Linked DNA regions of Homo sapiens: region 1 is reported to be linked to region 2. The links are microRNA targets in miRTarBase. Many come from high-throughput screens and were not tested one by one. Region 2 holds a microRNA gene; the other region holds the end of a gene's coding sequence.
Evidence for each region. Region 2 holds the annotated microRNA hsa-miR-3664-5p (AACUCUGUCUUCACUCAUGAGU, at 1,792-1,813, shown strand). A microRNA usually pairs through its seed, bases 2 to 8, with sites in the 3' UTR of a target mRNA and lowers its output. Matches are read on the target gene's strand: a 7mer-m8 pairs with bases 2 to 8, a 7mer-A1 pairs with bases 2 to 7 and ends in A, and an 8mer does both.

Region 1: the mRNA of KIAA1143 is a reported target of hsa-miR-3664-5p. The part of its 3' UTR that is shown has no 7-base or 8-base seed match.

What each region holds. Positions count from the first base shown.
Region 1 is chr3:44,750,623-44,754,033 of GRCh38, reverse strand. It overlaps KIAA1143, which reads left to right. Exons shown (of 3, transcript NM_020696.4): 3 at 482-3,411. The coding sequence ends at 693. Among named protein-coding and RNA genes, the nearest start is that of KIAA1143, 9.3 kb to the left of the region's middle.
Region 2 is chr11:70,870,729-70,874,139 of GRCh38, reverse strand. MIR3664 (microRNA 3664) reads left to right here and starts at 1,772; the gene lies at 1,772-1,870. All of the region lies in intron 11 of SHANK2 (SH3 and multiple ankyrin repeat domains 2), which reads left to right.

The sequences.
Region 1 (3,411 bases), not on the chromosome of region 2:
AATGGAAATAATTGTACCTATTGGGTTGTTACCAGGATTAAGTGTGAATTTAAGTAAAAGCATCCTATTTTTTTTTTTTAAATAGATGGTTAGACTTATAAACCAGTCAAAAAAGGTGTATTTCATTACTGCCTGAAGTTTGGTATGATATGTAGTATATTTTTCATTATTTCTGAACATTTACTACATTGCTTTAGGGGAAAATGCTGTAGTTCCAAACAGTCACTTTTCAAACTACTTAAAAATACAACCTGATTGTAATTGGGAACTGACAATATTATAGAATACTTTAGCATGTGAGTTTTTATTAAGTAACTGCATGCCTTGAGGGCAATATAGCTAGAAACAATGGAGAAGACCAGACTGAATCAGATTCAGGGATATCCTTAAATACAATATGAGATTTTCTTATTATTTGCTTCTAAGGTAAAGGCAAAATAATGAGGAGAAGAAAGTTCTTAAAAATTCTGTTTTTGCTCAGATGAAGAACCAACTCCAGCCGATGGAAGAATCATATATCGAAAACCAGTCAAGCATCCCTCAGATGAAAAATATTCAGGTTTAACAGCAAGCTCAAAAAAGAAGAAGCCAAATGAAGATGAAGTAAATCAGGACTCGGTCAAAAAGAACTCACAAAAACAAATTAAAAATAGTAGCCTCCTTTCTTTTGACAACGAAGATGAAAATGAGTAAGTGTAAATATTTTGAATTTAGTCTACTTTGAAAGTATATGGAGTGTTCATTAAAATCACATTTTTTCCTATTATAAAGATACTACAAGTTCTTTATAGAAAGTTTAGGAAATAGAGAAAAAAATTTAATAAACTACATCTATTCATCAATACCCCTCTGACTTAAAATGCCAACTCTATAGAAATTAGCTAGTATTAACATTTTGTTATTTCCCTTGTGTGGTTGTATATATATGTAAATTATATTTTTAAGCAAAATACATTTTTTGTGTGTAAACAAAATTTTATAAATACAACTGTATTGCAAATGTTCTTTGTCCTGCTTCTCACTTGACATTGCATTACGAGTATTCTTCCAGGTCAGTAAATTTCAAAAACCTGACATTAATAGCTACAGATAATTTCATAAACATCTCATTGTATCTTTTTCATTAGCAATAGCTCCACTTTGGGTGGGGGAGATGATAATGTGCCTTGTTAAAAATACCTCCCCAACTCCTGCTAAGGGTGGCCATGAGACTCAGCTCTGGCAAGTTAAGAAATACAGGTGGAATTCTGCTTGATAAAGCTGCTGGGTTTTTTGTTACAAAAGGACAGACTTGGCAAACATGAGCCTTTGCTCTTATCTTTTCATCCTACTTGGAGTGCAGAGATAAAACCTGAGTACCAGAGCCACTTTTAGGCATAAGGAAGGCAGCCATGTGCTTTGGGTCATGTTAGTAAAAAGACTCAGAGCTTGGCTCCTTGCTGACATGCCTGGAGGAGCTGCTACACCAGCTTGGATTGCTGACCTCTGACTTCTTGGTAGTGAGAAGAATAAACACTGTGCTTAATTAGGCCTTGGTCAGGTTTCTTTTATATGCAGCCAAATGCAGTCCTAAGTAATACAATAAATAACTGGTCAAACTGTTACTGGTGGAGGGTGTCCAGGTTCTTGGCATTTTGGACAAATAATTGAACAAAACGCACAAAGCAATGAATATCCTCTAGAGGTTTGCCATTGGTTACTTGGCGTACACCCTGTGTAAATGAAGTAGTGGCCCGTGACCTGTCTGATTGGTGCAGAAAGTGACCAATCAGAGGCTGAAGTGAAGTTACAAAGTTATACTCCTGTGTAAATGAGGACTTGGCCTATGACCAGTCTGATTGGTTGCAGGAGGGGACCAATCAGAGGCACTTTCATTTTTCATCTGCAATGCAGAAAAGGCAAGGGGATTGCAAAGGGAGTAGCCTCTGATCCTTTTGTTACTTAGGTATGGAGAGGTGGGGTTTTCCTTTTGATTCAGTTCTAGGAAGTCAATGTGAATCAGCCTTAGGTTCCCTGTCTCCAGACCCTATTCTCCTGCCTCATTTTCCCCCTGAGAGACGTGATCCTCGTAAATCTTTATGGGAGGCTGAGAGACTGAGGGTCTTTCTTCTGTAACTGCTTCATGCTAACTTGGGACACAGTCCCTACCTATTGGAGATCACGTAACTCTCACCCTGCTTTGTCTAGGGGAGACAGGGTAGCTTCTTGATGGCCGGTGGTGTCTTCTCCTGAAACTGGCTAGAAATCTTGTCACATGATCATCTAACTTGGTGGTCTCTAGGCAAAAGGAAATGGATTTGGTTAAAAGATTTAACAGATATGGTCCAAAAACCAAGGCAAATATAATCATTAATAATGGGCTGGCCAAGGGAGGGAGCCATGAAACCCAACTTAGTGCCCTTTAGGTGCCCCAGCTGTTGTCATATTTTAGAGGCCCAGTCAGCTAGTTTTCAGGTGGTGTCCCTTACTAATCCTGATTGGTTGACATCAAAACAGCATTCTTCTTCTAGGAAAATACATAAGCCACCTGTTTCAGCAGTTAGGAGATCTAGTCCCCTTCGATTTTGCAAAGCGACCACTGCCAAGGAGCCTATCCGAATTTGTAAGGTGACAATACTTTGAGCAATGTTATCCAGGCTTTCCATAAAATCCTTGGACAAGCGTTGGTAATAGGATAGGGAAGTTGCAATCCCGCTAACTCCCATTCCTACCTCTGCTGTTATTCCTAGCCGTTGTGTCTGGTGGTTGCAGTTAAAGGTATAATGAGGGATTGGTTGTTGGGAGCTATATTAATTTAGGGACATACAATATTTCTGTCTCCAGTCTACCACTTCCACCAAAGACAAATCACAGCAGAACCGACCTAACTTCAAAATAAACTGCAGTCCCATATACTGGGCCTGATTACCCACACAAAGTGCAACAAGAATCATTGTCCATATAGACTCTCCTAGATTGGCTTTGCTAGAACATTTCACAAGGCCATTTCAGTCAAAGTCCTGAGAAAGTAACCGGTTTCAATTGTGCCCTATTACAAAAGAAAACGTGGTTATTAACTTTATACAGACAAATGCCATGAATTAAGAATATTCATAAATAGTTTACAAATTCTGGAGAAATTAGAATACTCAATACACTTAAAGTGTATTTCAAGGCTATAAATAGCTCAAAATAAAAAGATTATTCAGACTCTGAAAAAACAAAAAGAAGTAGCAATATTTCAAACAACAAAAGCCATACAAATTATTTCAGTCTTCCATTAGTTCATTTCAGTCCATGTAATCAACTCCTGCTCTACTTCATATTCATCTTTATGAACACATCAGCCTTTCAATTAGTGCCTTGGAAGTTTTCTGTCTAATCCAATGGCACACTCTCCAAAGTTACCAGAAACCTGCATTCAAGAGTTCT
Region 2 (3,411 bases):
TATGGATAGATAGGATAGATTAGATAGATGGATTGATAGATAAGATGGATGGATGGATGAATGGATGGATCTATAGGTAGATGGATAGATGGCTAGATGGAGGAATTTCTGTGTACTGTTCACATGTTCTTTAGTCTGTTCAAAAATGTACTTTGCATTGGGATGCTGCCCCCAGCCTGCCTACATCATGCCTTTTTCCTGATGACACGTGTTCCTGTCACTGACGCCCGGGAGCTGTTTTTGAGGGCAGCTTGCCCAGCGTGCTAGTGACAGGAGGCTGGTGCTAGGAATGAAGGTTATTTGGTCTTCTCACTGGCATCACTGTTTGGTATTCTAATCCCATGAGATCGTTGTAAACAATAGCAAAGTTGTTCATGAACTGGCAAAAAAAAAAAAAATGGTAAATGGAGGAAGCAATGGCTGGCTGTGAGCAGGGGACGCACTCAATGTCCTTTGCAGAGTGAGCAGGGTGGATTAAGTGGTTGCTGCGGGCTCTGGCCTGTGCTGCCATCTTTGCAGTGACCCTGAAGAAGAGAACTGCCCCAGATGGGACTGTGGAACGTCTCTCCTGAAGAAGCCCCGAAAGGGTGTGTGGCAGCCGCTCCTCCTTCATGGGACCACTGCTAGAAGGTTAGGGATCCCAACTGCCTCACCTCTGGGCAGCCCCTCCTCCTCCACGGAACTGCTGTTGGAAGGTTAGGGATCCTGCCTGCCTCCCCTCTGCTGTTTCCCATTTCCTGTTTGCCTATTGAAAGTGTCTGGGGCCGTTGGGCCCTCCTGTCTCATGAATGGGTGTGATTCCTGGAAGCCCTGCAAGTCTCGACCTTGTCAGCTCTCACCTGCCCTCCTCTTCCTCATGGGTTTTGTCAGAGGATGTTAATGCCTTCCAAGCAAATTGTATCAAATGCATTTGAAAGGCAAAACTCATTGTTTAGTGTCTGAGAATAGCCTCTGAGTGCTGGGATGCCACGGTTGCTGTGGCAACGGCTCTTTGTTTTAGGGAACCACAAACATATCATTCTATAAACTGCAGGGCCCAAGCTGCAGGTTTCACCTTCCTGAGGGTCGCCACCCGGGAGGCAGAGGCACCAGGATGGACGTGGGAACTACCTCCGCTCTTCCTTTCTCACAGGTGCCCAGGATGTCTTTAGCTTTTGTAATGTTTGGGGCTGGGGGAGGTGGAGGTCATGAGTGTGGGGAGAGGGCAGACAGTGGATATGTGCTCCTCCTGCCCCGAGGAGCTGGGCTCTACAGGGCATCGTGGGGTCCCTTCCTCTTAGCAATCAATGCCATGTTCCACTGTGGCCCCAGACTCCAGCACCAAGCAAAGCAGCCCCCACGACCCTTAGGACAATGAGGGGTGAAAATTGCCACCCATCAGTTTTCAAGTGGTCAGTGTGGAGGAAAACAGGGACCCGCAGGTGGCCAGAACGTGGAGGAGATACACCAGGGAGCCGGAAGTAATGTGGTCCAGGGACCCATCTCTCATTCCACGTAGCTCACGGACCTGTGTGCCCCTGACTCTGGTCTGTGGGGGGCCCCTCTGTATGGGGGCCCCCTATTCCCTCCATCTGAGGGTCTCTCTTCCCTCCATCCAGCCACTTGGTCGTTTGCACCCACTGTGTCCACCAAGCGCTTCTAGGGAAGGGTCTTGTCCTTTTTTCTCCCCGTCCCGCCGAGCCTCCACCTCCAAGCCTGCATCCTACTTGTCTTTCCTCTTCATGCGTGTGGGGTTTTTTTCCCCTCCTTTCCACTGTGCACCCCGTCTCCTCTGTAAACTTGAAGGTAGGGAACTCTGTCTTCACTCATGAGTACCTTCCAACACGAGCTCTCAGGAGTAAAGACAGAGTTCCCTACCTTCAATGTGGATCTGCAAAAAGATCTGAAAAGCGAATGCCTTCTCCGTAGCTCGTTGGCAGTAGTACTTGACCTGAACTGATTTGAGGCTATTTATAGTTTTTATTTATCCTACTTAGCATGATTATTCATCCGTGCCCTGAAGGACTCCTCCCGCAATTGGCAATGGGACACTGCCCAGACCCACTGGCGGTGTGACGTAACAGGCCACACACGCATCATCCTACTGCTGCAGAAGCAGGCAGCGTGCACATGCCAAGGCACCTCTGGCTCTGGTGTTCAGGGATGTCGTCGTGGGGCTGTATTTGTTGAATGAACAAGAGTTCTTAATCCAAGAATAATGCTGGGTTTACCTTTCAAGTAGTTCAAAGGCTTCTTTCAAGACGGTGTTGTTATGGAGGATGGGATGCGTCTTGCCTTAAATATTAATAGAAATCGTATATGGAAATCTCAGACGGCTTCAAAGAGTCTCTCAGTCAAATTCAGATGGGGACTGTGCCTCTTTCCTGGCTGTCCCCTCCCAGCCCCCATGTGGCCACAGTTTGCTGTAAAACCCTGCAGGGCCCCTGAGTACCAGGTGTGTCTGGCCCGTGTTGCCTTTCAACATGAACTCTTTCTTGACTTTCTTCTCCATCAGGGATATGGTCATATTTATAATATTTGTCTCGACCTCACTTTCCTTTCTCTCCCTGCCCTGCTTGTTCAGCAAATGTGTTGGGGAATCCGCAGGGTCCCAGGCACAGCCTCTCCCTCCAGGGGCTCACAGGCTCCATGGCACACAGATGTGGCCTCAGCACGTGAAGGAGGCTCAGTGCCAGGCTATGTGGCTCATCTCAGAAGGTGGTGTGGCCCCAGGTTCTGTGGTTGCCCTTGCTCTGCTCTCTGCTCCCCACCCCCGCCCATCCTGCCCTGCTCCTATGGTGCCAGTGATCTTCGGGGCTGGTGGCTTGCAGAGCGCTCCCTGGACCTCCTCTTGGACCCTCAGACTCATCTCCTGCAGAGCCTGCCACCAGGCGAGCCCAGACCCCTGACTCCCCTTTGAAGTGTGTCCCTGCAAATGCATATGTTGAAGTATCACCCTGAGGATCTCAGAGTGTGACCTTGTTTAGAGGTAGGGTCTTTACAGAAGTCATCAGCTGAAAATGAGGTCATTAGATTGGGCCCTAATCCAGTAGGACTGATATTCTTATAAAAAGAGGAAATGGGACCGGGTGCAGTGGCTCATGCTTATAATCCCAGCACTTTGGGAGGCTGAGGCGGATGGATCACCTGAAGTCAGGAGTTCGAGACCAGCCTGGCCAACATGGTGAAACCCCGTCTCTACTAAAAATACAAAGATTAGCCGGGCGTGGTGGCGGGTGCCTGTAGTCCCAGCTACTTGGGTGGCTGAGGCAGGAGAATCACTTGAATCTGTGTGGGCGGAGGCTGCAGTGAGCCGAGATCGTGCCACTGCACTCCAGCCTGGGCGACACAGCAAGACTCCATCTCAAATAAATAAATGAATGAATGAATGAATGAAATGTGGCCACAGCCATGCACTCGGAGCAAACCTCA